Regions from separate parts of the Homo sapiens genome. Here regions 1 and 2 are each linked to region 3. The links come from fine-mapping of genetic effects on gene expression. A gene starts in region 3. Each other region holds a variant in brackets. All regions are shown on one strand. Distances are between the middles of the regions.

Region 1 (11,013 bases), 550 kb before region 3:
ATGACAATTTGAACACGTGTATTTACCTCCACTTCGCTGCCAACCCTCATTAAAATGACAGTAATTTGGGGAGAGAAGACAACAATGCAATATTTAAAGCTAGAAAATAGACATACAAGGGTAACTGACAGCCGACCTGCAGAAACTGAATCCAAAACTGGCATTGGGGAAAATTGACAACCAACACAATTCACAATAAAGAACCTCCAAAAGGCTCAAAAATTGGCAGTACCAGTACTTCTGGAAGTGGAGGTGAAAGTAAGTCTAAAAACAAGAGTATTGGTTGAAATTCTTATTAACCAGTTGGATCCTAAGATCTCCCCCACAACTCCTCACGGTTGTGTGATTGTCTCTGCCCCAACTCCCATCAGATGTGAGGTTTATTCTCTAGAGAGAGTAAAACAGAGGGTCTCTGGACTGCGGAAGCACAGTTGAGGAAGAAGTACCATATGGAAAACAAGGACATTCAGAAGTTTATATATTGATTGTTGATACTCTTAGCCTCTTATCCCACTTAGTACTTTTTTTTTTTTTTTTGAGATGTTGTCTTGCACTGTTACCTGGGCTGGAGTGCAATGATGCCGTCTCGGCTCATTGAAACCTCCACCTCCTGGGTTCACGCGATTCTCCTGCCTCAACCCTCTTGAGTAGCTGGGATTACAGGTGCACACCACCACGCCCAGCTAATTTTTTTTTTCTTGTATATTTAGTAGAGACGGGGTTTCACTATGTTGGCCAGGGTGGTCTCAAACTCCTGACCCCATGATCTGCCTGCTTCGGCCTCCCAAAGTGCTAGGATTACAGGCCTGAGCCACCGTGCCTGGCCCCACTTAGTTCTTAGAATGCTGACAGTCAGGCTTACAACCTCCAGGCTGGAATATCCTTCTGTGGAAATGTGAACAACCTCAGAAAAAAATAATAATAAAGAAAAAGAAAAAAAACCCTAAAGATGTTGATATAAAGGGTTGTCCAATGAAATGACCCAGCCAGATCACCTTGCAGTGAAACCCATTGTGGTAGACAGACCCAAGGTAATCCCCAGTGGATACCACCTCCTGGTACTCATGCCTTTATATACTTCTCTCTTCTTGAATGGAGATGGGAAATGTGACTTGCTTCTAACCTAACAGAATATGGCAAAGGTGATGGGATGTCACTCTCATAGTTAAGTTACATTATAAAAGGCTCTGCTTTAGCAGACAGAAGCTAATGTCTCTTCCTCTGGGCTTGATGAAATGGGAGGCTATGTTGCAGAAGCCTACATGGCAAGTAACTGCCAATCTCCTTAAGGAGCTGTGGATGGCCTCTAGGACCTGAGGGTAGCCTCCAGCCAACAGTTAGCAAAAAGCTGAGGCCCTCAGTCGTGTGGTCATTAGAAAATAAATTCTGCCAACAGCCTGATTAAGCTTGGAAGCAAATTCTTCCCCAATCAAAACTCCAGATGAGTTTACATCCTGACCAACACCTTGATTACAATCTGGGGAGACTCTTGAAAGAGGACTCAGCTACCCCAGACCTGAACTCCTAATGCACAGAAACCATGAAATTATTAATGCGTGTTGTTTTAAGCCACTACGTTTGTGGTAACTTGTTACGCCACAGTAGAAAACTGATATACTCACACAAGTCTCACTAAATACTCTGACCTTCTAATTAGCTTTTTAGGAACCTACTCATAAATATGAGCAAACAGCCAAGGATGACAAGCTATCTGAGGAAAGCCTCCAATATCAAAGATAGAAACCTAAACCAACCAATAAACCAAAAACTTAAAAGAAACAGAAATGAAAATTAATAACCATTATTGTACTCAAAGAGATAAGATGTTGTATCTATCAAAAAAGAGCAAGATTATATTTAAAAGGATACTCAGAGGGCAAAAAATTGCTCTGAAAAATTCCTGCTTTAGCTGGAGGCCATTATCCTGAGCAAATTAACACAGGAACAGAAAACCAAATACCACATGTTCTCACTTATAAGTTGGAACTAAACACTGGGTTCTCATGGACGTAAAGATGGCAACAATAAGTAGTGGGGACTACTTAGCAGGAGGTAGGGAGGGAGTCAAGGGTTGAAAAACTATTGGGTACTATGCTCACTACCTGGATGACAGGATCATTTGTACTCCAAGCCTTGGCATCACACAATATACCCATGTAACAAACTTGCACATGTACCTCCTGAATCTAAAATAAAAGTTGAATTTTTTTTTTAAAAAAATCCTGCTTTGAACTTCTTATTAGAAAATGTTGTAGAATGAAAAATTTGTCTGGTTTTTGTTGCAGGACCTTTGTCTCAGTTTCCTGGGAAAGAGCTTCTAAACTCTTAAAATTTCTTGAGTGATAAGAGTGTCTTTGTTATTCATGATGGGCCTCTGGGCCCATGACTGAATTTATGATAATGAGGTGGCTTAGGGTGGGCTCTTGGATAGTTTCAGGATGGGGGTTGGTGAGGCTGAAAAGACCAACAACCATGTGACTAGAGAGTTGGGGCTTTGTGCCAGATGATATCAGGCGAAGATGACCTCTGGGGAGGGAAGAAGGGGGAATGGAGACTGAATTCAATCACATGATCAATGATTCAATCAGTCATGCCTGTATAATGAAACCCCAGTGAAAACCCTGGACACCAAGGCTCAGGTGAATTTCCTAGTTAGTAAACATATTGATGTGCCAGGGGTGACATATCCTGATTCCACAAGGGGAGGACACGGAAGCTCCACAATTAGGGCACTCCTAGACCTCATCCTGTAGGTCTCTTCATTTGGCTAGTCCTGATTTGCATCTTTTATAATAAAACTGTAATCATAAACATGGTACTTTTCTGAGTTCTGTGAGTTATTCTAGGGAATCATCAAACCTGAGGGGCTCATTGGAATACCCAAGTTGGTAGCCAGTTGGTCAGAAGTGCAGGTAACCCTGAACTTGTAGCTGGCATCTGAAGTGAGAACAGTTTGTTGGAGACTGTGCCCTTAACCAGTAGAGTCTCTGCTAACTCTGTTAGTGTCAGAATTGCATTGCAGTATTGCAGAAGCAATGAAAGATAAAGCTGAGGGAACAGCCCAGAAGTAGAGCAAACAGACAAGCACATGGAAAGAATAAGAAAAATGTAAGCAAATTACATTATTCAGGTAGTCCAACATAAGAATAACATGAGTTCCAGGGAGGAAAAGGTCAGAAAAACTGGAGAGAACAAAATTAAATAAATAATTCAACAAAAGTTCCCAGAGTTGAAAGACAGTTTTAAGATTGAAAGGGTCCACAGAATACCCAACACAGTGAAAGAAAATGGACACACACCAGGGGAGATCAATGTGATGTTGCATCCTAAGGACAAAACAAAGAACCCAATGGCTTCCAGAAAAGAAAAATTACAAGGGATCAGGATTCCAAATGGTTTCAGGCTTCTCAAAAGTTAGAAGCTAGAAAACAATGAAGAAATATCTTCAAAATTATTAGGGATATCATGGGATGAGAGTGCTCTACAGATCTAGAGAGCAATTGGGCCATATTGGAGCAATTCAAAGATGTCTCACAGAAGACGAGACTGACAGAAGAGCCAATGCATCTTCACATATTGGGAGAATATTTAGTCAACTGGGGAACAGGTTGTGGATGAGCTAATGTTAAGTACGTAGAAAAATAAGCAAGAGAATAAACAAGACAATTATCGGCTCCATTAAAAACAAGCAGATGTGCAAGAAAGGAAAAGTAATCCTAGTGTGCTATGTAACTCAGCTGTGAATAGCATTTCCAGAGTCATAATAATGTAAACACTGAATATTGATCTAGTCAAAATTATGACATAACTGTACTGGTAGAGTGGTGGAATGGGAAGTCTGTGTTTGTGCATGCACGGGGGCTTATGGTGATAATGAACTAAACTCTCCTCTTCCATAGAATGCTTTAATCTGAAAAATTATGAATTAGCTTTACAAGCATGCTATTTAGCTAAAGGAGCTCCAAGTAGTTCCCTCTAGGGAGCAGATAATGGGAGAGGGGGGCAGGTTGACAGCTATGACAAGTACCTATTTGTTTCTTTAAACTGCATACAAAGCAAAATTCTTTAGAAAATAAAAACTATTTTTATTTTTTAATTTTTTATTATATTTTTTCTTTTTTCTTTTCAACTTTATTGTATTTATTTTAAGTTCTGGGATACACGTGCAGGACGTGCAGGTTTGTTACATAGATAAACGTGTACCATGGAGGTTTGCTGCACAGATCAACCTATCACCTAGGTATTAAGCCCCGCATGCATTAGCTATTTATCCTGATGCTCTCCCTCCCGCCACCTAACCCCAGGTCCCAGTGTGTGTTGTTACCCTCCCTGTGTCCATGTGTTCTCATTGTTCACCTCCCACTTATGAGTGAGAACATGCGGTGTAAAAACTATTTTTAAAAGCAAATTCAAATCAGATCATGTCACCAAATTACATAAAACCCTTAGTGGCTTACCATTGCAATTAGAACAAAATCTTCTCTTTCCCATGACTTATATGCTTCATCATGATCTGAATCCCGCCTATCTTATTTCATTTCATGGGACTCTCCCCCTTGATCTCTAGGCTCCAGTCACTCTGGCCTGCTTTTTCTCCCTCAAACACAAGCCTGTCTCCATCTCCAGGAATTTGTACTTGCCATTCCCTCTGCCTGGAATCCCTTTCCCCAGATATTTTCACAGCTGCCTCCTCCTGTTGACAAGACTCAACTGAAAGTTGCCTCTTCAGAGAAGCCTTTCATGACAATCCAATCTGAAACAATCAGGCAAACCCAAATTGAAACTGAAATCCAGTCTAAAGACAACTGCTCTGTACTCTTCAAAAGTGTCAATGTCATGAAAGACAAATGAAAGCTGGGAGTAATCTAGATTAAAGAAGACTAAAGACACAGAACTAAATGCAATCTATGATTTGACCCTATATTTACAAAAAAAAAAAAGCTATACAGAGCATTATTTGGACAATTTGAGAAATTCAAATATGCATTGTATTCTAGATAATATTAATGTATCATTGTTAAATTTCATAAGTGTGATCATTGTATTGTGTATGAAGGAGAATGTCCTTGCTGTTTATGAGATACATGCTGAAATACTTATGTGTGACATGTCATGATGTCTGCAACAAACGTTCAAGTGGCTCAGCCAAAAATAAAGAGGTAGATATGCAGATAAATAGATGGAGTTATAGATATTAAGTAAATGTGATAAAGTGTTAGCAATCAGTAAAGAATATGTAAGTGATCACTGTATTATTCTTGCAACTTTTCTGTAGGATTGAAAAGTTTTCAAATCAGAAGTTGGTGGAAAAAAAATCTTGAAGTTTATTTAGTAGGTTTGTTGTTGGTAGTAGCATTGGT[G/T]AAGTAATTCCAAACTATTTTGGATGTGCTATAGGATTAAGCAAATGAGTAAATAAATTGACTGACCAAAGTAGCCCTCCAGGCACTTTCTATCACATCATCAGTTTTTGTTTTCTTTATTGCACTTATTTTCTGAAACAACGTCTTCATGTATGTATGTCTGTATTTCCCCAGCCCTTAGCCAATAAATGCTATTTGAGCACGGATGATGTCTGTCTTGTTTTTTGGTGAATCCTCAGCATTCAAATGAGTGCCAAGCATGTAGTAGATGTTCAATAATTATTTGTGGAATTGATGACTGAATAATGCAATCCCTAGAAACCCTGGGTGTCAGGCTGCTGCAGTTTTGCCCCAGGGCCACGTTAAGGTTCTGAGACCCAGTTGGGAAAGGGCCTTGTTATTGCAGAGACCAGTGAAGCTGAGAAAGAGAAAGGGGGAAACTGAGCCTAGTTCTGTCATATGAAGTGTGGTTAAAGGGAATAGGCCCTTCCAGAAATGGCCATGCCTAAAGGTCATAACTAGAGCATGGGGACTTAAAACCAAAAGGTGAATGATAGAAGGGAGGTCCTGGAAATGACTGTTGAATGCTTTAATCTCCATCTAAGACAACTGAGTTCTGTGACGCCTTGTCCTTGCAAGTCACTTCAATTGTGTAAAGCCTCTCCCCTGAGATTCCTTCTTATGACAGAACTGATTAATTCTGCATTTTGAGCTAACTCTCAGTAAGGGAGAACTACAAGAAAGAGAAAAAGGGACAGCTGGAAAGGCTGCTGGCAGTTCTTTGGAGGAAAAGAAAGCCACCTTCTTCCCCAACCTTTTTCATCACAGCAGTTCTGCCTATCAACACCTCTTTTTCTTAAATTCCTTTCTCTATTCGTTCCTCCCTCCTATATCCATCACTTTCCCTCTTAAAGTCAGTCATAAAGCGTTTGTAGAGGGTGGTGAGGTAACAAAGTAATTTTGTGCGAGACAATTCTTACTAACATTATCTTTTTTCCTTTTTGGATAAAGACACACACACATACACATATTCAAATACTGAGATTGAGTATTACAAATGTCTGCCTGCCTCCATTACTGACACCACACCAGGAGGGTTCTAATAATCTTTTTCACTCCTTCTAAACACCATCACCTAAGGGACACTATCAGCTCTATACTCCCTCCCTCAGATCCCCCCACACACACCTGTGATCTGCCACACCAAAATTTCCACCACTTTTTTCTCTATGCCATTAGAGCAATCTGTTTTCTCTTATTAATACAAGCTGGGTTTAGATCCTTGGCAGGTTAGACTGGATGGCTGTTTCTCATCAGCTTTCCCCCATGTCTAAGCCACAGTGAGTTAAAGATTCTGCAAAGATTCATTTTTTTTCTTATCTTTCTTCAAACTGTTTTCAGTCTCTGAATCTGCTTTGAGGTCCACAACCATCCCACTCCTGCTTACCTACAAAGACCTTTCTCTCATCCCCTGGTCATTCATCATCAGTTAGAATTTTAAATTAGAAATCCCATTAGCATGTTGAGTCCATGGAAGCCAAATGACCCATTATGGACTAAATCCAAATGTATAGGCAGGTGGTTAAGCCAGTTGGGCCAGCAGCCTTGGCAATGCAGACCCAAAGCTAGAGGTTGCAGCAAAAATAAAGAAAGAATCATGATTTTACAAATTACCTCAAATCAACTGGATATCAGCTCTAGGGAAACAAAGCAGATTTGTAGATGCTTCCAGAACCAAATACACAGTCAAGGACAATTTTTCCTCACTGGTTAGTTTTACCATGTACACCTATATTCAAACAGCCTTCATTGCTCCCATTACCTTTAAAACCAAATCTTCCAACTCTTCAATCTGATGTTGAAAACCTTTTACATCCCGCTTTCTCCCTACCACTTGCTTCACTCTAATCTCATCTCTCATCAGTCGTTGGTATGTTCCCTCTATCTCAACCAGCCTGGCTCATTCTCACCTCCAGATTTCTATCTTTGCTTCTCTCCTTGTCTGCAATGCCTTTCCACTTCCCCTTTGCTGATCTATGTTAATTGCATCATTCAAGATCCATTTCAAGATCTGTCCCCTTACAAAAAGCTGTCCGTGATTCACTCACAGGATTGCTGATATTTCGTGCTAAAACAGACTTTAGAGCTAGATGATCAAGCTCAACTTTATTCCCACCTCCATTTTTCATACGAGAAAACTTAAGGCCCAAAGACATTAAATGATCTGTATAAGGTCATGTTGAGAGTTTAGTGGTAGAACCTTAATATGAAGCCAGATTTCCTGACTCCCCTTGCAATTTCCTTTCCGCTCTGTCACACTTAGTCCCCACCCACCCCCAGCCCCCCAGAAAAGTACAAAGTGTGGTGTCATGATCATAAACTGGCATCTGTGTTTGGATTGCTTTTCACCTGTATTTGGCTTATCTTGACCACCAAGCTCTAATAATTCTTGTGGGAAGGATCACGTCTAATATTTCTGCCCTTTCTCCTTCCCCAGGACACCTAATAGGGCTGTATACACCACAGACTGGCAGTAAATACCGCTTAACTGTGGAGTGCTTCACTTCAAGAAAACATAAAAACAGAACCAATAAAATGAGTATACCCTGGTTGAATTATTATATTACATACATATTCAAAAATGTTCCTCTAAACAGGGACCTCCTATAGTGAGCTTGGTTGCAGATCATTAACTGCTGTCCAGAAAGAGTGAGAGCTGAGAAACCTCTGCTCCTTTGACAAGCTCAAGAAAGAAAAAGGCATTAAGGCAGCCTTCCCACTCTGCTATGAAGAGGATTTACACAGACCCTGTCTCACAGCCCCCAGCTCACAGCCCTCAGTATTGTGCTCTGGTCTCCCTCAGCTGGAAATTGAGTGACACAAGTTCTAAATGTCTGTTCCACCACTAATTATCTCTGTGACCTAAGACATGGCACTTAGTCTCACTGGACTTGTGTTTTCTCATCTGTTAAAGGGTAGGGGACAGGGGTATGTGATGGAAGTCCGAATTTGCTTGCCTCACACATTTGTTGTGAGGCTGAAGTGAGATAATATATGTGAAAGTACTTTAGAAATAAAAAGGCATTATACAAATGCAAGGTATTAACTTTTTAACTCTCCAATCCTATATCAATTAATCCTAGGAGACTAGAGTGAGTAAAGGTTAACAGGTTTGCATTTTAATCCCAGCTAAATTAATAGTCTGAATCCTCTACCTTCTCCATACATGCTGCCTGTTCTTCATCCCATCTCCTTATTTTATTTAGTAGATTATTATAAAGGTTGCTATTTTGGCTTGGCACATCCCGAGGTAGTACAGTAGGGGAGGTTGGCAGCTGCTAAGACTCGGGAGAGACACTGATTTCTTCCCAAATTGCTCTAAAAGGGAGGACTTAGGGAATTTAAAGCTACTGATCAAGGGGGGAAGGGCTTCCACTCTAGCAATACAGTGCCACTCTCTCATTCAATAATGAAAATGAAATGAAAACAGGAAGGGAGAAGAGATTTAATTTTGTCACATTTCTCAGCTTTTCTCTCCTTTGCCTCTCCAGAACTCTGAGCACGGCTGAAATTGAAGGAGCTCCATGCTGGCTTGGATAAGCTTTATTCTGGGTAGAATCAGAGTAAATGCTGGCAGTTGGGTAAGGTAGTGCATTGCATATTCAAAAGATATGAGCCTATTGTACTGATCGATCCTTCATCCAGCCCAATCAGGTAACTTATATAACATGCCCAAAAGTCCCAGGCTAAGGACCATTTCTGCCCTGGGACATCCAGAACTATGTTCATCCAAGCCTCTGTGGATACGGTCATCATTCCAGATATGTCTGGTTAAAGAAATTCTTATGTACCTCTTTGCCTTTTTAAAAATCTGTATTGTTTAATTAAAAGAGAGCCTCTTAGGAGATCATTAATCATTTGAAATATCAAATAGTGCTGAAAAGCAAGGCAGAAAAATACATCCTAACCAGTAACCTACAATGAATCATCCACTTAACAGACATTTCCTGAATCCTGACTATGACCTCAAGTCCTGGGTTAGGTTGTGAGGAAAATACAGAAGCATCTAAGTAAAACTTTATTAAGAAACCAGCAGGTTATGGGAAAGAGGAAGGTGTAGCTTAGTTACAGCAAAGGTGCCTCCCCAAATCAGGTACCAATCAACCATTCTGGCCATCCCTCTACTCTGCCTCCAATGTAAAGCATGGTATTCAATGCTGGGCTAAGGAACCCCCGACACACACACACAAAGAACCCTTACTATGATATGAGGCAATAAGGTAGCTAATGATGGGCTGAAAAATAATTTTTTAAAACCTTCAAAACTAATCATAATGCAGTTCAGGCAGTATATCTCCAGTAACCTACCCTAATGGAGCAAAAGCCATGTACAAGCAACTATTTTAGCATTCAATCTCAAAATGACCTTGTAGCAAGAGTCTACATCATAAATGTTGGCCTCATTATAATTGAGTGTAGAATTATAGACAAGAGTTTCAATAAACATACATAAAGCAGTAACTCCAAGTTGTCCCCTGGTGGTATCTCGCTTGACAATACACTGTCTATGCCAAACCCCAAGAGGCCATCTGTAACCCAAGAGGCCATCTTACTCTGTGACTGCTCAGCCTTCAGCCCTTCTAACTACATGTTGGGTTTAGTAAAAAGCAAAATTTAAATGTGGGATATCTGCCCCTTCTAAGGACAGGGATTCCATTAAGGTGTGAGAGCCAGAAAAGTGATCTCCAGTCCTGGACTTGCTGGTTGGTCAGATCTGGCACTTTAATGCACCAGATCCAATAATGAGATCTGGCACCTGTATATTTCAGTCCTGAACTCTTAGGGTTAAAGGCGGCTTGGCTACTTGAGTGTGGGATAGGGGAAAGGAGAACAAGCCCAAGGAGGGTGAAGAGAGTGGGCTCCTAAGGTGAATTTACTGGAAGGAGGACTGCCACGTGAGGGAATTGATAGGGCTCACTTCTCCTGGTCTTCCCATCCCCAGAGTTTAAGGACGGTCCCTGCACTAGCTTAGTAGCTGCCAAGCAGTGTTAACACATCTCTGGAAAGGTGGGCTTAGGCTGTGAGGCTGCAGCGAGGATCTGGGAAATGCAGACCTCACCAGAGATTCTGGTCTTTGGAGGGATTTAGGTGAAACTGTGCTCTTATGGTATTATTTATTGCTGAGACATAGTATAGGCAACAGAAAGATGTTGCAGATTCTAGAAAATTCTGGCTAGGTCAGTGTCCGTTGGCAAAAGAAGAGGGAATAGTGGGGGATATGGTCTGGGAGTAGATGGCTAGAGAAGGGGCTGCAGAAAGAAGGCTGCTACCCACAACTGCAGCATTATGTGTATGGGAGATAAATTCACTTGTCATATTTCAAATCAGGTTTACAGGTATTTCTCCCCCGTCCGCTCCCCCCACCCAGCTGTGGCTTAACAGGTAGTCTTCTCAAATTTTAATTACAATTGGTAATATATTGGCGTCTAAAGTCTAGGTCTGACTAAGATGATGGTTTGTGTGTATGTGTACGTGACTATAACAGAAAGAGCTTCTAAAGTCTTCCGATGTGGTGGGAAAGGTGCTGCGCTAGGCATCAGTCGTTCTCTTCCCAAGAGAATCTCCCATCTCTAATGTCAGACTGCTTCAGGAG
Region 2 (11,013 bases), 150 kb after region 3:
CAGGTTAGTTACATATGTATACATGTGCCATGCTGGTGTGCTGCACCCATTAACTCGTCATTTAGCATTAGGTATATCTCCTAATGCTATCCCTCCCCCCTCCCCCCACCCCACAACAGTCCCCAGAGTGTGATGTTCCCCTTCCTGTGTCCATGTGTTCTCATTGTTCAATTCCCATCTATGAGTGAGAACATGCGGTGTTTGGTTTTTTGTCCTTGCAATAGTTTACTGAGAATGATGATTTCCAGTTTCATCCATGTCCCTACAAAGGACATGAACTCATCATTTTTTATGGCTGCGTAGTATTCCATGGTGTATATGTGCCACATTTTCTTAATCCAGTCTATCATTGTTGGACATTTGGGTTCGTTCCAAGTCTTTGCTATTGTGAATAGTGCCGCAATAAACATACGTGTGCATGTGTCTTTATAGCAGCATGATTTATAGTCCTTTGGGAATATACCCAGTAATGGGATGGCTGGGTCAAATGGTATTTCTAGTTCTAGATCCCAGAGGAATCGCCACACTGACTTCCACAATAGTTGAACTACTTTATAGTCCCACCAACAGTGTAAAAGTGTTCCTATTTCTCCACATCCTCTCCAGCACCTGTTGTTTCCTGACTTTTTAATGATTGCCTTTCTAACTGGTGTGAGATGGTATCTCATTGTGGTTTTGATTTGCATTTCTCTGATGGCCAGTGATGGTGAGCATTTTTTCATGTGTCTTTTGTCTGCATAAATGTCTTCTTTCGAGAAGTGTCTGTTCATATCCTTTGCCCGCTTTTTGATGGGGTTGTTTGTTTTTTTCTTGTAAATTTGTTTGAGTTCATTGTAGATTCTGGATATTAGCCCTTTGTCAGATGAGTAGGTTGCAAAAATTTTCTCCCATTTTGTGGGTTGCCTGTTCACTCTGATGGTAGTTTCTTTTGCTGTGCAGAAGCTCTTCAGTTTAATTCGATCCCATTTGTCAATTTTGGCTTTTGTTGCCATTGCTCTTGGTGTTTTAGACATGAAGTCCTTGCCCATGCCTATATCCTGAATGGTATTGCCTAGGTTTTCTTCTAGGGTTTTTATGGTTTTAGGTCTAACGTTTAAGTCTTTAATCTATCTTGAATGAATTTTTGTATAAGGTGTAAGGAAGGGATCAGGTTTCAGCTTTCTACATACGGCTAGCCAGTTTTCCCAGCACCATTTATTAAATAGGGAATCCTTTCCCCATTTCTTGTTTTTCTCAGGTTTGTCAAAGATCAGATAGTTGTAGATATGTGGCGTAATTTCTGAGGGCTCTGTTCTGTTCCATTGATCTATATCTCTGTTTTGGTACCAGTACCATGCTGTTTCGCTTACTGTAGCCTTGTAGTATAGTTTGAAGTCAGGTAGCGTGATGCCTCCAGCTTTGCTCTTTTGGCTTAGAATTGACTTGGCGATGCGGGCTCTTTTTTGGTTCCATATCAACTTGAAAGTAGTTTTTTCCAATTCTGTGAAGAAAGTCATTGGTAGCTTGATGGGGATAGCATTGAATCTATAAATTACCTTGGGCAGTATGACCATTTTCACGATATTGATTCTTCCTACCCACGAGCATGGAATGTTCTTCCATTTCTTTGTATCCTCTTTTATTTCATTGAGCAGTGGTTTGTAGTTCTCCTTGAAGAGGTCCTTCACTTCCCTTGTAAGTTGGATTCCTAAGTATTTTATTCTCTTTGAAGCAATTGTGAATGGGAGTTCACTCATGATTTGGCTCTCTGTTTGTCTGTTATTGGTGTATAAGAATGCTTGTTATATTTGCACATTGATTTTGCAGAAATACAAACTACCAACAGAGAATACTACAAACACCTCTATGCAAATAGACTAGAAAATCTAGAAGAAATGGATAAATTCCTCGACACATACACTCTCCCAAGACTAAACCAGGAAGAAGTTGAATCTCTGAATAGACCAATAACAGGATCTGAAATTGTGGCAATAATCAATAGCTTACCAACGAAAAAGAGTCCAGGACCAGATGGATTCACAGCCGAATTCTGCCAGAGGCACAAGGAGGAACTGGTACCATTCCTTCTGAAACTATTCCAATCAATAGAAAAAGAGGGAATCCTCCCTAACTCATTTTATGAGGCCAGCATCATCCTGATACCAAAGCCTGGCAGAGACACAGCCAAAAAAGAGAATTTTAGACCAATATCCTTGATGAACATTGATGCAAAAATCCTCAATAAAATACTGGCAAACCGAATCCAGCAGCACATCAAAAAGCTTATCCACCATGATCAAGTGGGCTTCATCCCTGGGATGCAAGGCTGGTTCAATATATGCAAATCAATAAATGTAATCCAGCATATAAACAGAACCAAACAAAAACCACATGATTATCTCAATAGATGCAGAAAAGGCCTTTGACAAAATTCAACAGCCCTTCATGCTAAAAACTCTCAAGAAATTAGGTACGATGGGACGTATCTCAAAATAATAAGAGCTATCTATGACAAACCCACAGCCAATATCATACTGAATGGGCAAAAACTGGAAGCATTCCCTTTGAAAACTGGCACAAGACAGGGATACCCTCTCTCACCACTCCTATTCAACATAGTGTTGGAAGTTCTGGCCAGGGCAATTAGGCAGGAGAAGGAAATAAAGGGTATTCAATTAGGAAAAGAGGAAGTCAAATTGTCCCTGTTTGCAGACGACATGATTGTATATCTAGAAAACCCCAACGTCTCAGCCCAAAATCTCCTTAAGCTGATAAGCACCTTCAGCAAAGTCTCAGGATACAAAATCAATGTGCAAAAATCACAAGCATTCTTTTTTTGTTGTTGTTGTTGACAAAGTCTCGCACTGTCACCTAGGCTGGAGTGCAGTGGCACAATCTCGGCTCACTGCAAGCTCTGCCTCCCGGGTTCACGCCATTCTCCTGCCTCAACCTCCCGAGTAGCTGGGACTACAGACGCCTGTCACCACGCCTGGCTAATTTTTTGTATTTTAGTAGAGACAGAGTTTCACCATTTTAGCTAGGATGGTCTCGATCTACTGACTTCGTGATCCGCCCGCCTCGGCCTCCCAAAGTACTGGGATTACAGGCGTGAGCCACCATGTCCAGCCCTCTATTTAAGAGCTTTATACTTTCCATGTGGTAAGTCATTCAATCCCTTTCTACCAGGACCCTATATATCTTCCAATGTTACATTTAAGAGCACTTTCTTCATGAAATCTGCCCTGACCATTGAACTTGAAAGTGGCCTCTTCTTCCTCTGAAAGTCTATGATGTTCCATGTGTACCCCTTGGAAGTTCTGGGTATGTCTTCATCTTGGTTATTTGTTTGCATGGGCTTGCTTTCCTTCAAGATTATAAAAAGATTTTTTCCAAGACCTTGTCTCTTACATCATTTCAACCTTCACCAAGCTAGCATGGTGCCAAATACGCTTGAAAGAGTCTAGGCTTAGCGACCTTAGGAGCATTTGGCTGCACCCCACATCTCAGTTCTCTTTTTCTGTCAAATGAAGAGAATAATAATACCACCCTGGTAGAGTTTTTGTAAAGAATAAATGAGATAATGTATATTAAATGCTTCATGTAGTGCCTGGTGTATAATTAACACTCAATATTAACTATTATTTAATTATTTGTGTTATTGATTGTATATTCAAAATGATGAATAAATGGAAATACTAGTACACATCAATAGACAAAAAAGCTTGAGTTCCTACTATGCACCAGAAACTTGCCAGAATACTCCCTATGACAGGCCAGGCATAATTATCATAATGTTATAGTTATGGCTCAACAAAATTACATTCACCTAGTAAATGGTGTATGACTCCACAGCCTGTATTTTCCACATTCATGCACTAGATAATTTATGCCTTGGCCTGACTTCAGAGAGACCAAGAGCTTTTTCTTTTATGTCTTTTTTTTCTTTTCTTTTTTTCTTTTTCTTTTTTTTTTTTTTTGAGACGGAATCTAGCTCTGTCACCCAGGCTGGAGAAGAGTGGCACCATCTCAGCTCACTGCAACTTCTGCCTCCTGGGTTCAAGCCATTCTCCTGCCTCCCGAGTTTACAGGTGCATGCCACCATGCCTGGCTAATTTTTGTATTTTTAGTAGAGACAGGATTTCACCGTGTTGGCCAGGCTGATCTCAAACTCCTGACCTTAAGTGATCTGCCCACCTTGGCCTCCCAAAGTGCTGGGATTACAGGCATGAGCCACCGCACCCGGCTCCAAGAGTTTTTTCAACATACACCTAGGGAAACCACTGCCTCACCCCACCCTGTCTACCTTGTGTGTTAGAATGAGTGTATTGCATTCCAGAGAAACAGCCATGTTTACTTAGAATCCCACCACATCAGTTTACATTTAAGAATAATACTCCAGGACATTTGTCAAAAATATAGATTCCTGGCATTATCCTAGGTTCTCAGGAAGAACCTACGAATCAACTTTTGTAATAAATATCCCAGATGATTTAATGCAAACTGACCACAAACCACTCCGTGAAATGAGTGGGTGATTGGGTTATATTTAGGTAATTATCTGCCACAGCTTGTAAAGAGACCAAGAATTCCTGAAAGTGAGGCCAAATTCAGATTCAGTAAATTTAGAGTGGGGCCTGAGAATTTGCATCTTTAATAAGCTCCTGTCTGATGCTAAGATCATATTTTGAGGTGCTAGAACAAAGCATTGTGCCCAGGATTCCTGGGTCAAGATTCTGGGGTTGCATTAGGGATCAGCTGGAAAGAATGCTGTTAACAGACTTGTCATGTTCTCCAAGGGAATAGCCATGGAGGCTGCTGGCAGGAATGCCAGATGTTGGCCATTCCGCGTCCCTCTAAAAGCACGCCACTTTACTTAGGACACATGAATCACTTCATCATAATGCAGAGTGTAATCTCTCCCATGCAAAGATAAAAACAACTGACCCCCCTTCCTCCATCAGCACAAACCATGTTCTGTTTTATTCATGGACGAATGGAGATTGCCTCACACAACTATGTCCCCTTCTTTTAGCCAATAGCAATGAGTACTGGGAGTAGTTGGCAAAGTTTGGAGGTACCACAATGGCTGACAGGTGATGAATCTGTGACTTGGATTATGAACCAGATGTGCCTAAGAGTTGGAGCTGAATATCTGAAACCATGTGGAGAATTGGACTGGAAGTGGGGACATACTGGATAGAGTGGAAAAAGAACGAGATTTCACAAAGTGAAGGAAAACTTTATTTTCACCATTTTGTCCAGGAGAAGAAGAAGAAGGAGGAGGAGGAGGAGGACGAGGAGGAGGAGGAGGAAAGTAGTACATATTTGTAGTAAAAGAAGGAGGAGGAGGTGGAATAAGACTAATTAAAAACTCATCTAGGGCCAGGCACAGTGGCTCACTCCTGTAATCCCAGCACCTTGGGAGGCCGAGGTGATCGGATCACTTGAGGTCAGGAGTGCGAGACCAGCCTGGCCAACATGATGAAACCCTGTGTCTACTAAAAATACAAAAGTTAGCCAGGCATGGTGGTGGGCGCCTGTAATCCCAGCTGCTTAGGAGGCTGAGGCATGAGAATCAATTGAATCCGTGAGGCAGAGGTTGCCAGAGGTTGCAGTGAGCTGAGATCATGCCACTGCACTCTAGCCTGGGCGAGAGAGCGAGACTCTGTCTAAAAAAACAAACAAACAAAAAAAAAAACCATCTAATCTAGGAGAGTAGAACAATATGGCAGAATAGAAGCCTCCACCATTCATCTCTCCCCACGACAGGAACACCAAAATTTAACAACTATCTGCACACAAAATTACCTTCACAAGAACCAAAAATCAGGTGAGCAATCACAGTACCTGGCTTTAACTTCATATTGCTGAAACAGGCATTGAAGAGGGTAGGATGGACAGTCTTGAGTCTCTGACACCACCTCTCTTCCATCCCCCAGCAGCAGTCATGCTGTGTGAAGAGAGAATCTGTGAACTTGCGGGAGGGAGAGTGCAGCAACTGGGGGACTTTACATTGAACTCAGTGCCACCTTGTCACAGTAGAGAGCAAAGCCATGCTGGGCTCAGCCAGCACCCATGAACAGAGGGAGCATTTGGGCCAGCCCTAGCCAGAGGGGAATGGTTCATCTCAGTGGTCAAGACATTAGTTTCTTGGCAAGCCTCACTGCGGTGGGTCAAAGTGTTCTGGGGTTCTAGGTAGACTTGAAAGGCAGTCTAGGATACAAGGACTGCAACTCCTAGGCAACTCCCAGTGCTAGGCTGGGTTTAGTGTCAGTGGACTAGGGTGGCCTGTGACCTAGAGAAACACCAGCCAGGGCAGCTAAAGGAGTGCTTGTGCCATCTCTCCTCCAACCCCAGGAAGTGCAGCTCACAGCA[A/G]CAAAGATGACTCCTTCCTTTGGCTTAAGGAGAGGAGAGCAAAGGGTAAAGAGGACTTTGTCTTACCTCTTGGATATCAGCTCTGCCACAGTAAGAGAGGGCACCAGGCAGAGTTGTGAGTCCCCCATTCTAGGCCTTAGCTTCCGGATGACATTTCTAGACCCACCTTGGGCCAGAAGGGAACCTGCTGCCTTGAAGAGAAGAACCCAGTTCTGGCAGGATTCATCACCTGCTGTCTAGAGAGCCTTTGGGCCCTGAATAACCAGCAGCAATACCCAGGTAGTACACAATGGACCTTGGCTGAGACTCTGAGACATGCTGGCTTCCAGTGTGAACCAGTATATTCAAGTTGTGGTGGCTATGGTGAAAGACTTCTACTTGAGAAAAGCAGAGGGAAAAGTAAAGGGGACTTTGTCTTGCCCCTTAGGTAGCAGCTCGGCCACATTGGGGGGTAGAGCAACAAGCAGGCTCTTGGGGTCCCAGAATCCAGGCCTAGGCTCTTGGACAGCATTTCCAGATCTTGCCCTGGGCCAGAGGGGAGCCCACTGTCCTGAAAGTAAGTCTCAGGCCTCCCAGAGTTCACCACAAGCTGAATGAAGAGTCCTTGGCCCTTGCACTTTAGGTGCACATCAGCATGGCCTGGCAGAAACCCCTGTGGGCTATGGTGTTGGTAGCCACAGGGAGAGGCTCCTCTGCCTGTGGAAGGAGGAGGGAAGAGTGGGAAGGACTTCGTATTGTGGTTTGAGTGCCAGCTTAGCCACAGTAGAAGAAAACATCAAGTAAATGTCTAATATTATTGACTCTAATCCTTGGCTCTCAGATAGCATATCTGGACCCACCCAGGGCCAGGGGCAGCTCACCACCCTGAAGGAAAGAACACAAAACTTGGCTGGCTTCACCACCTGTTGATCATAGAGCCCTAGGGCCTTGAGTAAACATAGGTGGTAGCCAAGTAGTGGTTACAGCAAGCCTTGGGCAAGACCCAGTGCTGTGTTGGCTTCAGGTCAGACCCAGTGCAGTCCCAGTGGTGGTGGCCACAGGGGTGCTTACATCACCATACCCCCAGTACCAGGCGGCTCAGCACAAAAAGAGAGACTCCATTTGTTTGGGAGAAAGTAAGGAAAGAGTACAAGTAACTCTGCCTGGTAATCCACAGAATTATTCTGGATTTTACCTATGACCACCAAAGTGGTACCTCTATGAGTCTGACAAACCCACAGTGTTATTGGGCTTGGGGTCCAAGTCCCTTTGAAAACCTGGAAAGCCTTCCCAAGAAGGATGGGCACAAATAAGCCCATATTGTGAAGAATACAATAAATATCTACCTCTTCAATGCCCAGACACTGACAAACATCAACAAGCATCAAGACCACAAAGGAAAACATGACCTCACCAAGTGAACTAAATAAGGTGCTAGGGACCAATCCTGGAGAAACAGAAATATGTGACCTTTCAGACAGAGAATTCAAAATAGCTATTTTGCAGAAATTCAAGATAACACAGAAGGAATTCAGAATGCTATCAGATAAATTGAACAAAGGGATTGAAATAATTAAAAACAATCAAGTAGAAATTCTGGAGTTGAAAAATGCAACTGATATACCGAAGAATGCATCAGGGTCTCTTAACAGCAGAATTGATAAAGCAGAAGAAAGAATTAGTGAGCTTGAAGATAGAAGATAGCCTATTTCAAAATACACAGTCAGAGGCGACCAAAAGAAAAAAGAATTAAAAGAATGCATCACACCTAAGAGATGTAGAAAACAGCTTCGAGAGGGCAAATCTAACAGTTACTGTCCTTAAGGAGGAGATAGAGAAAGAGATGGGGTAGAAAGTATATTCAAAGGGATATCAGAGAACTTCCCAAACCTAGAGAAAGATATCAACATTCAAGTACAAGAAGGTTATAAAACACCAAGCAAATTTAACCCAAAGAACACTACCTCAAGGCATTTACTAATCAAACTCCCAAAGGTCAAGGATAAAAAAGGGATCTAAAAGCAGCAGGAGAAAAGAAACAAATAACATACAATAGAGCTCCAATACATCTGGCAGCAGACTTTTCAGTGGAAACCTTACAGGCCAGGAGAGAATGGCATAATATATTTAAAGTGCTGAAGGAAAAAAACTTTTACCCTAGACTAGTATATGCAGCAAAAATATCCATCAACTATGAAAGAAAAATAAAGACCTTCCCAGACAAACAAAAGCTGAGGAATTTCATCAACACCAGACCTGTGCCTACAAGAAACGCTAAAGGGAGTTCTTTCATCTGAAAGAAAATGATGTTAATTGAACAAGAAGAAATCATCTGAAGGTACAAAACTCACTGGTAATAGTAAACATACAGAAAAACATAGAATATTATAACCCTGTAATTGTAATGCATAAACTGCTCTTACAATAAGTAGAAAGACTAAATGAACCAATCAAAAATAATAACTACAACAACTTTTCAAGACATCGACAGGACAGTAAGACATAAGAGAAACAACAAAAAGTTTAAAAAGTAGGGGAACAAAGCTTAAGTGTAGAGTTTTTATTACTTTTCTTTTTGCATGTTTGTTTCTTTGTTTATGCAATCAGTGTTAAGTTGTCATCTTTTAAAATAATGGGTTATAACATAGTATTTGCAAGCCTCATGGTAACCTCAAATAAGAAAACATACAACAGATACAAAAAAAGCAAGAAATTAAATCACATCATCAGAGAAAGTCAACTTCATTAAAAGAAAGATAGGAAAGAAAGAAGAAAGAGAAGACCACAAAATAACTAGTAAATAAATAACAAAAATCAGTAGCACTTATATATGCCAACAGTGAACAATCTGAAAAAGACATGAAGAAAGTAATCCCATTCACCATAGCCACAAATAAAATTAAATATTGAGAAATTAACTTAATCAAAGAAGTGAAAGATCTCAACAATGAAAACTATAAAGCACTGATGAAAGAAATTGAATAGGACATCACAAAATGTAAAGATATTCCATGTTCATGGAATGGAGGAATAAACATTGCAAAAATGTCCATACTACCCAAAGCAATCTACAGATTTAATGCAATCCCTGTCAAAATACCAATGACATTGTTAACAAAAATAGAAAAAACAACCCTGAAATTTATATAGAACCACAAAAGACCCAGAATAGCCAAAGCTATCCTAAGCAAAAAGAACAAAACTGGAGGAATCGTATTACCTGACTTCAAATTATACTACAGAGCTATAGTAACCAAAACACCATAGTACTGGCATAGAAACAGATGCATAGCCCAAGGAACAGCATACAGAACCCAGAAACAAATCCACACACCTACAACTAACTAATTTTTGACAAAGGTGCCAAGAAAAGACAGTCTTCAATAAATGGTGCTGGGAAAACTGGATATCCATAGGCAGAAGAATAAACTCGACCCGTGTCTCTCGCCATATACAAAAATCAAATCAAAATAGATTAAATATTTAAATCTAAGACCTCAAACTATAAAACTACTACAAGAAAATATTGGGGGGAAATCTCCAGGACATTGGTCTGGGCACAGATTTCTTGAGTAATACCCCACAAGCACAGTAATACCCCCAAAGCAAAAATAGACAAATGGGATCACATCAAGTTAAGCTTCTGCACAGCAAAGGAAACAATCAACAAAGTGAAGAGACAACCCACAGAATGGGGGAAAATATTTGCAAACTACCCATCTGACAGGGAATTAATAACCAGAATATATAAGGAGCTCAAACAAGTCTATAGGAAAAAATATACTAATCCAACCAAAATATGCCAAAAGATTTGAATAGGCATTTCTCAAAAGAAGACACAAATGGCAAGCAGGCGTATGAAAAGGTGCCAACATCATTGGTCATCAGAGAACTGCAAATGAAAACTACAATGAAATATCATCTCACCCCAGTTAAAATGGCTTATAGCCAAAAGACAGACAATAACAAATGCTGGCAAGGACGTGGAGAAAAGGGAACCTTTGCACACTGTTGGTGGGATTATAAACTAGTACAACCACTATGGAGAACAGTTTAGATGTTCCTGGAAAAACTAAAAATAGAGCTACCATATGATCCAGCAATCCCACTGCTGGGTATATACCTAAAAGAAAAGAAATCAGTATATCAAAAAGATATCAGCATTCCTATGTTTGTTGCAGCACTGTTCACAGTAGCCAAAATTTGGAACCAACTTAAATGTCCATCAACAGAAGAATGGATAAAGAAAATGTAGTACTACCCCAAACTATAAAAACCCTAGAAGAAAATCTAGGCAATACTATTGAGGACATAAACAGAGGCAAAGATTTCATGACAAAAACATCAAAAGCAATTGCAACAAAAGCAAAAATTGACAAATGGGATCTAATTAAACTAAAGAGCTTCTGCATAGGAAAAGAAACTATCATCAAAGTGAACAGACAGCCTACAGAATGGAAGAAAATTTTTGCAATCTATCCATCTGACAAAGGTCTAATATCCAGAATGTACAAGGAACTTAAACAAATTTATAAGAAAAAAACAACCCCATTCAAAAGTGGGCAAAAGATATGAACAGCCACTTCTCAAAAGAAGACACTTATGGGTCCAACAAACATATGAAAAAAAGCTCAACATCACTGATCATTAGTGAAATACAAATCAAAACCACAATGAGAT
Region 3 (11,013 bases):
AGGCGTGAGCCACCGCGCCCGGCTGCTAGATGTTTTCTAAGAATCTTTTCAAGTCTAAACTTCTACTTAAAGACCCAAACAGACAACCACAGGACAGGGCTTCCAAGGACAACCTAAAATTACCTCCACAGAACAAGGTCCCAGTCCCACCCCAGGTTATAAGAAAATAATAGTGATAGTAGTAATAACGGCTATTGCTAAATTTTACTGAGCACTTATTATATGCTACACAATATTCTAAATGTTTTACTATTATAATAATGGCATACACTTATATGGCATTTACTATGTTCCAAGTGCTCTGCATATATTAGCTTAATTTCTCTTCACACCAAGCCTATCAGGTGTTCTACTTTTCTCCCTTTTCAAAAATTGATATATAATAGCTGTACATATTTGGGGGGTATATGTGATATTTTGATACACGTATACAATGTGTAATGATCAAATCAGGGTAACTGGGATATTCATCACCTCTAACATTTATCTTTTCTTTGTGTTAGAAACATTCCAATTTTTTACTTCAAGCCATTTTGAAATATATAATTATTGTTAACTGTAGTCTCCCTACTGTACTATTGAATACTAAAACTTTTTCCTTCTCTCTAGCTGTATGTTTATAACCATTAACCCACTTCTCTTCATTCCCCAAACTCCTTCCCTTCCCAGCCTCTGGAAACCACCATTCGACTTTCTACCTTCATGAGATCCACATTTTTTAACTCCCACATATGAGTGAGAATATGCAGTATTTATCTTTCTGTGCCTGGCTTATTTTACTTAACATAATGACTTCCAGTTCCATCCATGTTGCTGCAAATGACAGGATTTCATTCTTTTTATGGCTGAATAATATTTTGTTGAATATATGTAACACATGTTTTTTATCCATTCATCCAGTGATGGACACTTAAGTTGATTTCCTATCTTGGCTATTGTGAGTAGTGCTGCAATATACATGGGAGTGCAGCTCTCTCTTCAATACTGATTTCCTTTCTTTTGGCTATATACTCAGCAATGGGATGAGTTATATTACTATCTCCATTTTGTAAAGGAGAAAACTTCCACACAGAGAGATTAAGTTACTTGCCCAAGGCCTCGTAGCTACCAAGTGACAGAACCAATGGAGTAGAACTCAGACCCACACATTTAACTATCATACCACACTGCTTCCAAACTATCATCGTACTTTGCTGGTTACTTCAGAGGTTAGCCAAAACAAAGGATAAGCTGCAGTTATCCAAAGAGCTTACTTATATAGAATACTCCCCTCTTCACTAATGCTGGAAAAATGAGGTTTCACTTCAATGTAATTTTAAGCACATCTGATTTCAGGGCCTGGGCTTGCAAAATACATTATTTACTATGAAAATATGACATTTTGATTAAGAGTTGTTAAACATTAAAATGTTTTTATTGTAAAATAAATCATTAACTAGTAATGACATTTCCATTAACTACAGAGAAAAAAATACAAGCTCTTTATGCATCATTAGGAACAAAACTTTAGATCCCCATCTGTGCCAATATCAGTTCTGTACTTTCAAAACTGTCTTTGAAACATTGACCTGACAGTACATAGGTGTCTCAACCCAAACAGGTCATCCAAATCCAGTGCACCACCCCCATGCCCATCAGCTGCCTCCCATGCTCCCCATCTCAGAGAATGGCACCAGTGGCCCCCAGGCACCCAAGCTGGTAGTTAATCCAGGCCCATTTCTTGCCACATCCAGTCACAGAACATTCTAGAATCCCATTCTAACCTTACTGCCCCTGCTTCTGCTCAGACCCTTACCATCTCTCCCCTAAACTATTCCAGAAACCTCCTGACTGACTCCCAGTTTTCATCATTTCCAGCTCAGCACTGCTGCCAAAGTAATCTTTCTAAAACAAAATCTGATTATGTTACTTCCCTGTTTAGAATCTTTGTCTTCAGGATAAAGTGTAAAATCCTTCCTAGAACATACAAGGCTCTTTATTATCTGGCCTCCAACTACCTTCCCTGCTTCATCTGAGGTCGCGCCCCTACACATCTCACATGAGGCAAACAGAGCAACTTGGAACTTCCCAAACAGTGCTGCTCTGTCTGCCCAGAATGCAATTCTCTCATTTGCTCCTACTCATTTTTTTAGACCAGCTCAAAACTCAGACTTCATCAAGCTTTTCTCGGGGCTTCCCTTGCTTTTTGTACCTCTCTATTCTAACACTTATTCAACATGGCAAAATTATTTGTTTGTATGTCTGTCTTTAGATGACAAGGAATCTTCTAGCATCCTGCAACTTATTCATCTCTGTATTTCGTTTGTTGAATGAAATAATGTCTCAGGATTTAAGCAAGAATATCCAAACTGCTCTTGATAAATGCCCATTGTGTGAGTCAAAGGAAGCATACAGGCCAAATCCCGTTTCCATAAATGTCTTCTCATTGATAATCTTTATACATGGAAACTACTTGTTACATTTGTGTGCCTACATAAAGTCACAACCAACACAATGAAACATTTTTAAAAGATACATTAGACCACCAACTAACCAACCTGCTGAATATTTCTAGATATTCAAGCTATTTCATTCCACTCCATTTAAGTGGTCTTTAACTTTTTGTGGGTCACAGGCCAATTTTGGTAGTGTTTGTCTATCATTTCTTAAACCCACACTCACTTTTGATAACAATAAAAATCCCACATACCCGTGGAGACTCCTAAACCCTCCAAAGGGCACAAACCGCAACTCCGCTCAAAATAAAACATAACTTTGTATGTGGTAGGAATTCACAAGTTCATGAGAGATGTAATACATCAGCTAAGATACTACTGAGCTTTGCTCTCAGGTAGTTCATATTATTAAAACAGGCGTTTTCCTTCTCAATGTTTATATTGTATCAAATATAAACACTGTAACATTAAATATGCTCTTTCAAACTGCATACATCACAAAGTTTTTATTGGGAAGATGAAGCTGGAGAGGCAGTGACATCTGTCTCCCCAACCTTATGGTGGGGAATCTTATGATAGAAATTTGCCAGAAACAAATGAAAAACACAAATGGGAAAAAATATCCTGTCTCCTGGCATATAACCCCCAATGATCACTTATTTAAATGAAGGGAGTTCTTTTAAATGCTGCTGGCATGGCATTTTCCTACTTCTCCTACAACCCCACTTTTAAATAATTTAAACTTATAGCTAGCAGCAGCTTCTTTTTAAACTAATGTGTTTTGTCCCTGCAAAGACAAAGGGTTAAATTAAAGAACAGCTGGCTGCCTGCCATTGGCTGGGTGGGGAACGGTTGGGTGAGGGTAGAGAATAGAGTAGGAGGAAAAACCAGTTAGAAGAATAAGTGCTAATTTCTTACCCTGCCACATGGCCATCTTGATCCTATCTTCACCCACGCTGGGGTCACAGGCTGAGTTTCCCAGAGCCTCTCAGTTTTGTAGGGAGACTTGATAGAAAGGCAGCTATGTGGCCCTGTTTTCTCCAAGGGGCTAAAGCCCCAAACCTGAAAATGTAAACAGAAAAATGAATACCTAAAAGAAACTATACACTTCAAATGCTTGAAAATTATCTCCTGCTCCTCTCTGAACCTCTCTTTCAAAGATATGCAGGCATGGGTAGTGTCAAGTTTCCCTCTAAGCAGCAAGGTATCTCTGAAGAGAGAGAGATCTGGAGTGAGTTAATGTTGCCACTCAGTGCTATACATTTCTGCATGAATCATTAGAGCTTCAGTAAATGAGGTCTGAGTCTCAGTTGATGAGTTGCTGGATGAAATCACCGTTAAGCACCTTTCCTACCTTGAAGTTTCATGCTTTGGAGACTGAAGAGCAACATTAATATCCAGTGCCCTAACCAACCCCCAAAATACCCAACTTTACATTTAAAAATCAGTAGAAGGAGAGGAAAGTTTATGAATAAAGTTTGGAAACAGATCTTGTATAGGGGAAAAAAAAGGAAGCGGAATAAAAAGTGAAGAGTGATGATACCCTTTGAGTAGTAGTTCTCTCTCCTTGTGTCATTATACTTTCCCACCCTTTGCAAATTTCCTATAGTGAGCGTATATTGCTTTTATAATCAGGGGGAAAATGAACCAAAGAAGAAGAAAAATGTAAAAATGGAATACCAGTTTAAAGAAAACCAAATTAATTCAGCTAATTCCTGTTGTTAAAACTTCAAATCCAGTCCTAGGACAATATTTGCAAAGATATTAAAGGAGTTAGGGGCCGGGTGCGGTGTAATCCCAGCACTTTGGGAGGCCGAAGCAGGCGGATCACCTGAGGTCAGTTCGAGACCAGCCTGGCCAACATGGTGAAACCCCGTCTCTACTAAAAATACAAAAATTAGCCAGGTATGGCGGTGCACTATAATTACAAGTGACGCCTGTAATCCCAGCTACTCGGAAGGCTGAGGCAGGAGAATCGCTTGAACCCGGGAGGGAGGCGGAGGTTGCAGTGAGCCAAGATTGTGCCACTGCACTCCAGCCTGGGCGACAGAACGAGAGCCGGCTCAAACCAAAAAAAAAAAAAAAAATAGGAGCTAGGAATGGGAGAAAAAATGAGAGGTCTGACGACTTAGTTTGACTTAGAGGCTTAACACTCTGCTTGCCCATTTAAACAAGATCTCAGTTAATAAACTGGTCTTCCCTACTTAGCATACAAGCCAATCTGTTTTTTCTAAAAGTCTTCACCTTTTTGACCTGGTGAACATCAAAGTAGATTGTTATTTCCATATCTTTTATACAACCAACACCTCCACCTCCTAAGTGAAAGTGCTAAAGCACAAACACTGAAGGCTAATACTAGCTTGAGAATCGTGTTGGCCTTCTTTAATGACAAAAGGGTTAATGTGTACACCAGTCCCAAAACACCAACAGAGAAAAGACAGTGCTTTGGACAAGGAAAAGTTCGCGAAGTCCAAGAAAACTAGGAACTCACAAACTCCTAGGGTGAATTCAGCAGGAAAAAGCGCTCCGATGACTTCTCTGAGACCTGGGACAGTCTGTTTTGATTTGCCTTTTTTCTTCTCCTATTTCGCGTGCAGTTAAGAAGTAATGATCATCGTCCCGTGGGACTAGGCGAAATTTAACATCCCTGAAGTTAAACCCGAGCAGTTGCTAATAAATGTATGAAGTTTATGTAAAGTTGATTCGTGCTGGTTTTTTATGCTCCAAACTTCTAGATTTCCCTCACTTACTCGGGGCAGCTTCCACTGACGTTATCGCACGGGCACAGGTACAACTTCACTGGGAACTCCAGGCAACTGATTTGCTCTGAAATGTTAATCAAAGGAAACGTGCGTCAATGTAAAGGCAAAGCTTTTCCCGTGTGGATCAAGGCGCTCAAGAGCAAGGCTCGAAAGTCTGGAGAGAACCAGCTACGCGCGTTAAGTGGCAAAAGGAAAACAGCGCAGCAACTACTTTTCCGAGAGTTTCTCCACTTTGCTAAGACCCATACAAAACCAGCGGCAAGTCCAGAGCCGGAGGGAGAAGAGCCGGGCCTCGGCTGAGCTTTGCCAGCCTAAGTCACCCTACCCCAGTCCGGGAAAGGGGACGCAGGCGGCTAAACACTCCGATTCAAAAGCGGGGCGGGCTTGGCGCCGCTCCGCAAGGAAACTTCGCTCGGGCAACCCAGGGACCATAACTCGGAGAACAGGGCTGGGCTCCCGGGAAGACGCCGCTCAGCACTGGCTGGAACTAGCCTGTCTACCTCCTCTAAGCGCCGGGCTGCCAACGCCGGGCGCGGGGAAGCCCCATCTCCGGGGGTCCAAGCCAGCGGGATTGCGCTTCCCCTGTGTCGCTGCGCTTAGGGGGTGCTCCGGGGGTGGGCCGGGGGCCAGCGGCCCGCCAAGGACCTGTTGGGGAAGGGACAGCCCGTTTGCCTTTACCTGTCGCCGAGGTCCGGAGCGGCGGAGCCCGTGTCCGCCGCCGGTGGGCAGCGCGCTCGGTCGGCTCTGGCGTCCAGGACACCAAGTTGAGTGAGCGCCCCACGTAGCCGGCAGAGCTTCATTCACACAGCCCAGCCGGGGAGGAGGGGGAGCGAAGCGGGCGCGCGGCTCATGTGACAGGGCGCCTCGCGAGTATCGGCTCAGCCCAGCCAGCGTCTGCGCGTGCGCGCCACGCCGAGCTCACACCCGGCACCTCTACCCAGCCGAGATGAGGGGAGGCCCGCCGGGGAGGAGCTGCCAGGAGGAGTTTCAACTTGCGCAGCCGCAGTACGTCGGCCCCGCTCGCTGCCATATTTAATGAGGACTGGGCGGGCGGGTCCTATCCCAGTGCTGGGCGTGTCAGTTGCCTTTGAAAACGCAATGCCCCATTGTGTTTCACTATTTCCAGCTTGCAGTGCCTTTTTTTGCTGGGGAGAAGGTTTGTCCTTAGAATGAAACTGTCTATCCTGAGCTTTCGGCCCACAGAGTAATTAGTAGTAGAAATCTAATACTAATAACATTAGATCACATAATTTGAGCTGCTTCTTATGTGCCAGGCACTCTCCTAACCCCTTTACTTTTTTCGTCTCATTTGGTGTTCACAATAACCCCGAGGGTTATTTCTCCATTTTTACTCATAAAAATACACAGGCACAGAAAGGTTAAGTAACTTGTCTAAACTCATATAATAGTAGGAATAGGAATAGTGATCAAACGTAGTGATACTTTTAACAGCCAACTTGATGTTTCCAGCAACGCTGCAAAAACTATACTGCAGTTGTTAGTACTGTATTATCTCCATATTAATCATTACAAAACAGAGGCTCAGAAAAGCTGAAGTCACAGGACTAGTACGTGGTAGAACTGGGAATCCAACCTAGGTCTAACTTACTCCAAAGCCCTTACCCTAGGTTTGAAAGAAACAGCACACCGTTTTGCAGAAGAGAAAACTTAGGCCAAATGGGGTGCACTGACTCACTTAAGATGATCCAGCTAATTAGTTCTTGGCAGACCTGAGACTGGAATCCATATAATCCAAGTAATCTAACTAGAACCAGGGTACTCTACTGCAGTGAACAATTTGGAATGCCTACTTTGGACAAGCTAAGTGGTCAGGGATTTAAAAACCCCTATCCTAGCCCAATCAGCATAAGGCTACCGGGGACAAATTTGTAATCCGACATAGTCAGGCTTTGACCCATTGCAATATGAGAGACTGCACACGGTAGGCATTTCATCAAACAGAAAAACATGGAGTCATTATAGGATTGGAGAGAAGAGTGGAGTTTAGGTGAATTTTAAACAAAGCAGTGTTTTTGGTAAGCTCAAAGCAAAGCAGTACTGTCATTTGGGGTCACCATCAGGTCTGAACTGCAAAGTGAACCCAGAGTTGTGTTTCCTTGGGAACCACAAAATAAAGATAGATGTGGAATGTTGTGTCCAGATACCCCTTATCTGAAGCTCTGCACCTGGGTTGGAAATTGAGGCTGCTTCTCTGTGTCAAAGAAACTTATGTCCTCCAGATGCATGTGGGATGTTTCATTCTTACTGATACGATTTCAAGCAGAAAAGTTTCTGATAATCTACGATTTTAGAGAACAAAGTCTCTCAGTGAATAAAAAAGTGGTGGTCACTGAAATAAAAACATCGTTACCACTTTACAGCTGCAATATGTCCGCCAAAGAAATATTGTTCTCTGTTAAATTTGCATCTGGTTTTATCTGTGTGTTATTCCGGCCTGATGAATGGCCGGATTTTTATTTTTTCAGTCCAAAATTTTTTTGCTTTCTGAGCTGGTAACATTCAGTCCCTTCCTTCAGGCACTCATGGTGTATGGGATAGCCACAAATAACTAGAAAATATCAGTACAGGCCTCTAATAAAGGTAAATCCAAGTGGAGGTAACACCGTTGGCAAAGGTGAGCAGGCAGGAAGTTATATGTGAGGACCCGTGAGTAGTCCTATGTGGTTGAAGTTTAGGGTAAGGAAGTACAGGGGAATTGTGGAAGATAATACCCAGAAGGTAAATTGGGGCCCAATTTTGGAGCATCCTGAATATTGGACTAAGATTTATACCTAATTCAAAAAGTGACTGAGAAAGAATTGAGGTTTCTGAGCAAGGCAATCCTCTTTTGGAATTCATCTTTTAAAAGGTGAATCTAGAGTAATTGTTCAAGGAAAGGTTTGATTGTTTGCTTGATTTTTTTTTTTGTCATTGAAGTAGAAGAAACTGGAGCTTATATGTAGGTCGAGCAGAAAAACTACTGGTGAAATCAATAATAAAGAGGCAAGAGGCCGGGTGCAGTGGCTCACGCCTGTAATCCCAGCACTTTGGGAGGCCAAGGCAGGTGGATCACTTGAGGTCAGGAGTTCGAGACCAGCCTGGCCAACATGATGAAACCCCATCTCTACTAAAAATACATGGCTAGGCATGGTGGCTGGCGCCTGTAATCCCAGCTACTCAGGAGGCTGAGGCAGGAGAATAACTTGAACCCAGGAGGCAGAATTTGCAGTGAGCCGAGATCGCACCACGGCACTCCAGCCTGGGAAACAAGAGCGAAACTCTGTCTCACATACACACACAAAAGAGTCAAGAAAAGGAGGGGATAACTAATGGAGTAAAATAATTGAGAGGCGAGAAATGAGATTCAAAACACAAACTAACCTCGGACACCTCTTCCTCTGATACAGGAAAAAACGGTTTGAAGGATGGCAGTCTGGTTGGAAGGAGACATGTCACGAAACTGCCTCTGCAGAGCAAACATATTGGCTTTACTTAAAGTACATACAGGTTTATTTGGGAGAGCTGGGGAGCGAGTAGGAGGGGTTGGGAGGGAGCAAGGAATTGGGGGGAATTGGGAGTTATAAAAGGGCTGCAGTACACCCAGTTTACCACTTGGTGTCGCCACTGACCGATGACAGCTTGGAGGGCTCCAGTTGGGGGACGAAATCTCCCCCTCCCCCCAAAAAATGTGCATTTCAAAAAAAGAACATTTTATCTTTTGCGAATTGCAAAACAAAACAGAGTGAGCTCCAGAGCCAGACTGCCTGGGCTCAAAGCCAACCATACTCAGACGCTTACTAGCTGTGTCACCTTGTTCAAGTTATCTAACTTCACTGTTTCGGGTTTCTTACCTATAAAATGGGATAATAGGAGTAAATGTATTAACAGGTGTAGAACAGTTAGAACAGATTAAGCACTCAATAAATGCTAGCTTGTATTACTATTGATAATGATAATGATGATAATGAACAAGGCTCCTTCAGCCTTTGGATCCCCAAGTTTTTCGGAAGCTATTTGTGTGGTGAGTATAAATGTCTGTACAATACCTTCCCAAGCGAAGTGGTGAGAGTGTGGTGCTAATGTGGCAAAATTAACAGTTCAATCAAGAGGTACAGATTCTGACTGTTAACTTGTTTTCTTTCCCATGGCTCAGACCACTCTCTACAGAAATCCAGCCAGGTGTCCCATGTGTTTGTGCCCATGGAAGTGAGTGGGTTTGGCCAAGAGAGTGAAGATAGATCAACATAATGAGTCCTCTGCTCTCCTCCCCCTACCCTGGACAAAATTGAAAAGATGTTCCCACCCCACCTCCCATGATGGTCAACAAACTGTTAACAGGTCAAGAGCCATTTCAGGTCTTACAGAGCAAAGAGTAAATACATTGTGATCTTAAAGCTTATTAAAAAAAAACGGAATTTCTCTGTATAACAAAAGGTAGCACTTCAGACTTAATATTGCAAAAGAAAAAGCTTTAGAACAATAGACCACAGTGACATCTAAACTATCATGTCTAAATGCAGCTTTAACTTTCATTTTAAAATTGGCATTGCAAATAGAGACAGTTAGATGAGTACGTAGCCATGTAGAGTGGTAAGTGAATGTTTCTTGTATGGTTCTTATTTATTTGTTTCACATTTTTTGAGCCCTTACTATTATGCTAGCCATTGTGCTAGCCGCTAGAAATACTGATTTTAAAGTAAAATTTCCCGAGTGCCTAAGAAATGCCTGGGATAGTTCTAGAACAAAAAATGGGGCAGAATAAAAGAAAATGAACAAAGTTCTCTAGCTCAGGGGATCTATCAAAACAGTAGGTTAGGAAATGCTGATGATAAAGTGATCTGAAGTCATTTGTAATTGCCCTGTGCCTGGAGAGCAGGGTATCAAAATTAACAAATGGCTTCTATACCAAAAATGGATAGCCAACCTCATAACTGGAGAAATGCTAATGAAAGCTACCATGAGATACCACTGGCAAAGTTTTAAATATTTATAATAGATTGTGTTGGCCGGGCACAGTGGCTCATGCCTGTAATCCCAGCACTTTGGGAGGCCAAGGTGGGCAGATCACTTGAGCCCAGGATTTTGAAGCCAGCCTGGCCAACATGAAGAAACCCTATCTCTACTGAAAATACAAAAATTAGGTGGGTGTGGTGGTGCATGCCTATAATCCTAGCTACTCCGGTGGCTGAGGCAGGAGAATCACCTGAACCCAGGAGGCGGAGGTGGCAGTGAGCCAAGATCGCACCACTGCACTCCAGCCTGGGCGACAGAATGAGACTGCTTCAAATAATAATAATAATGATAGTAGTAATAATAATACACTGTGTTGACAAAGCAGGGGTGGGAGGGTAAGTCCTCTCATAAATTGTTGGTGGGAGTGCAATTAGTCAATTGAGGGCAATTTTGCAATAACTATAAAAATTAAGAATATATGAGACTTTGATCCCAAAATTTAATTTCCAGAAATATTTCCTTCAGTTATGTTTGCATGGGTGTAAAATGTTATATGAACGAGGTTATTCACTGTAGCATTGTTTGTAATAATAAAAACTGGGAAGCAACCAGATGTCCCTCAATAGGGGACTGATCAAATAAATAATGGTGCATCTCTCCAATGGAAAAAAAAAAAAGAAAAAGAATGAAAGGCCGGATGCAGTGGCTCACACCAATAGTCACAGCACTTTGGGAGGCCAAGGTGGGAGGATCGCTTGAGCCCAGGGGTTCAAGACCAGCCTGGGCAACGTAGTGAGAACTTGTCTCTAGAAATAATACAAACATTAGTCAGGTGTGGCATCACACCTGTGGTCCCAGTTACT

Alleles and levels. Alleles are on the strand shown, and positions count from the first base shown. SD is a standard deviation of normalised expression in the study named. Not every link is listed here.
With allele G in place of T in region 1, the expression in liver of the gene that starts at base 6,072 in region 3 is higher (moderate effect, 0.70 SD a copy in GTEx).

What was found. PIP is the estimated chance that this variant, and not a neighbour inherited with it, causes the effect.
Region 1: its variant is fine-mapped to the expression of CLCN5 in liver (GTEx, PIP above 0.99).
Region 2: its variant is fine-mapped to the expression of CLCN5 in cerebellum (GTEx, PIP above 0.99).

Annotation. Positions count from the first base shown.
Region 1 is chrX:50,471,758-50,482,770 of GRCh38, reverse strand. No RefSeq gene overlaps it. Among named protein-coding and RNA genes, the nearest start is that of DGKK, 6.4 kb to the right of the region's middle. The variant G/T (reference allele first, on the strand shown) is at 5,361.
Region 2 is chrX:49,770,422-49,781,434 of GRCh38, reverse strand. No RefSeq gene overlaps it. Among named protein-coding and RNA genes, the nearest start is that of PAGE4, 53 kb to the left of the region's middle. The variant A/G (reference allele first, on the strand shown) is at 6,355.
Region 3 is chrX:49,917,655-49,928,667 of GRCh38, reverse strand. It overlaps CLCN5 (chloride voltage-gated channel 5), which reads right to left and starts at 6,072. Exons shown (of 15, transcript NM_001127898.4): 1 at 5,876-6,072; 2 at 5,186-5,261; 3 at 3,354-3,497. The coding sequence starts at 3,369. RefSeq lists a silencer at 5,761-5,810.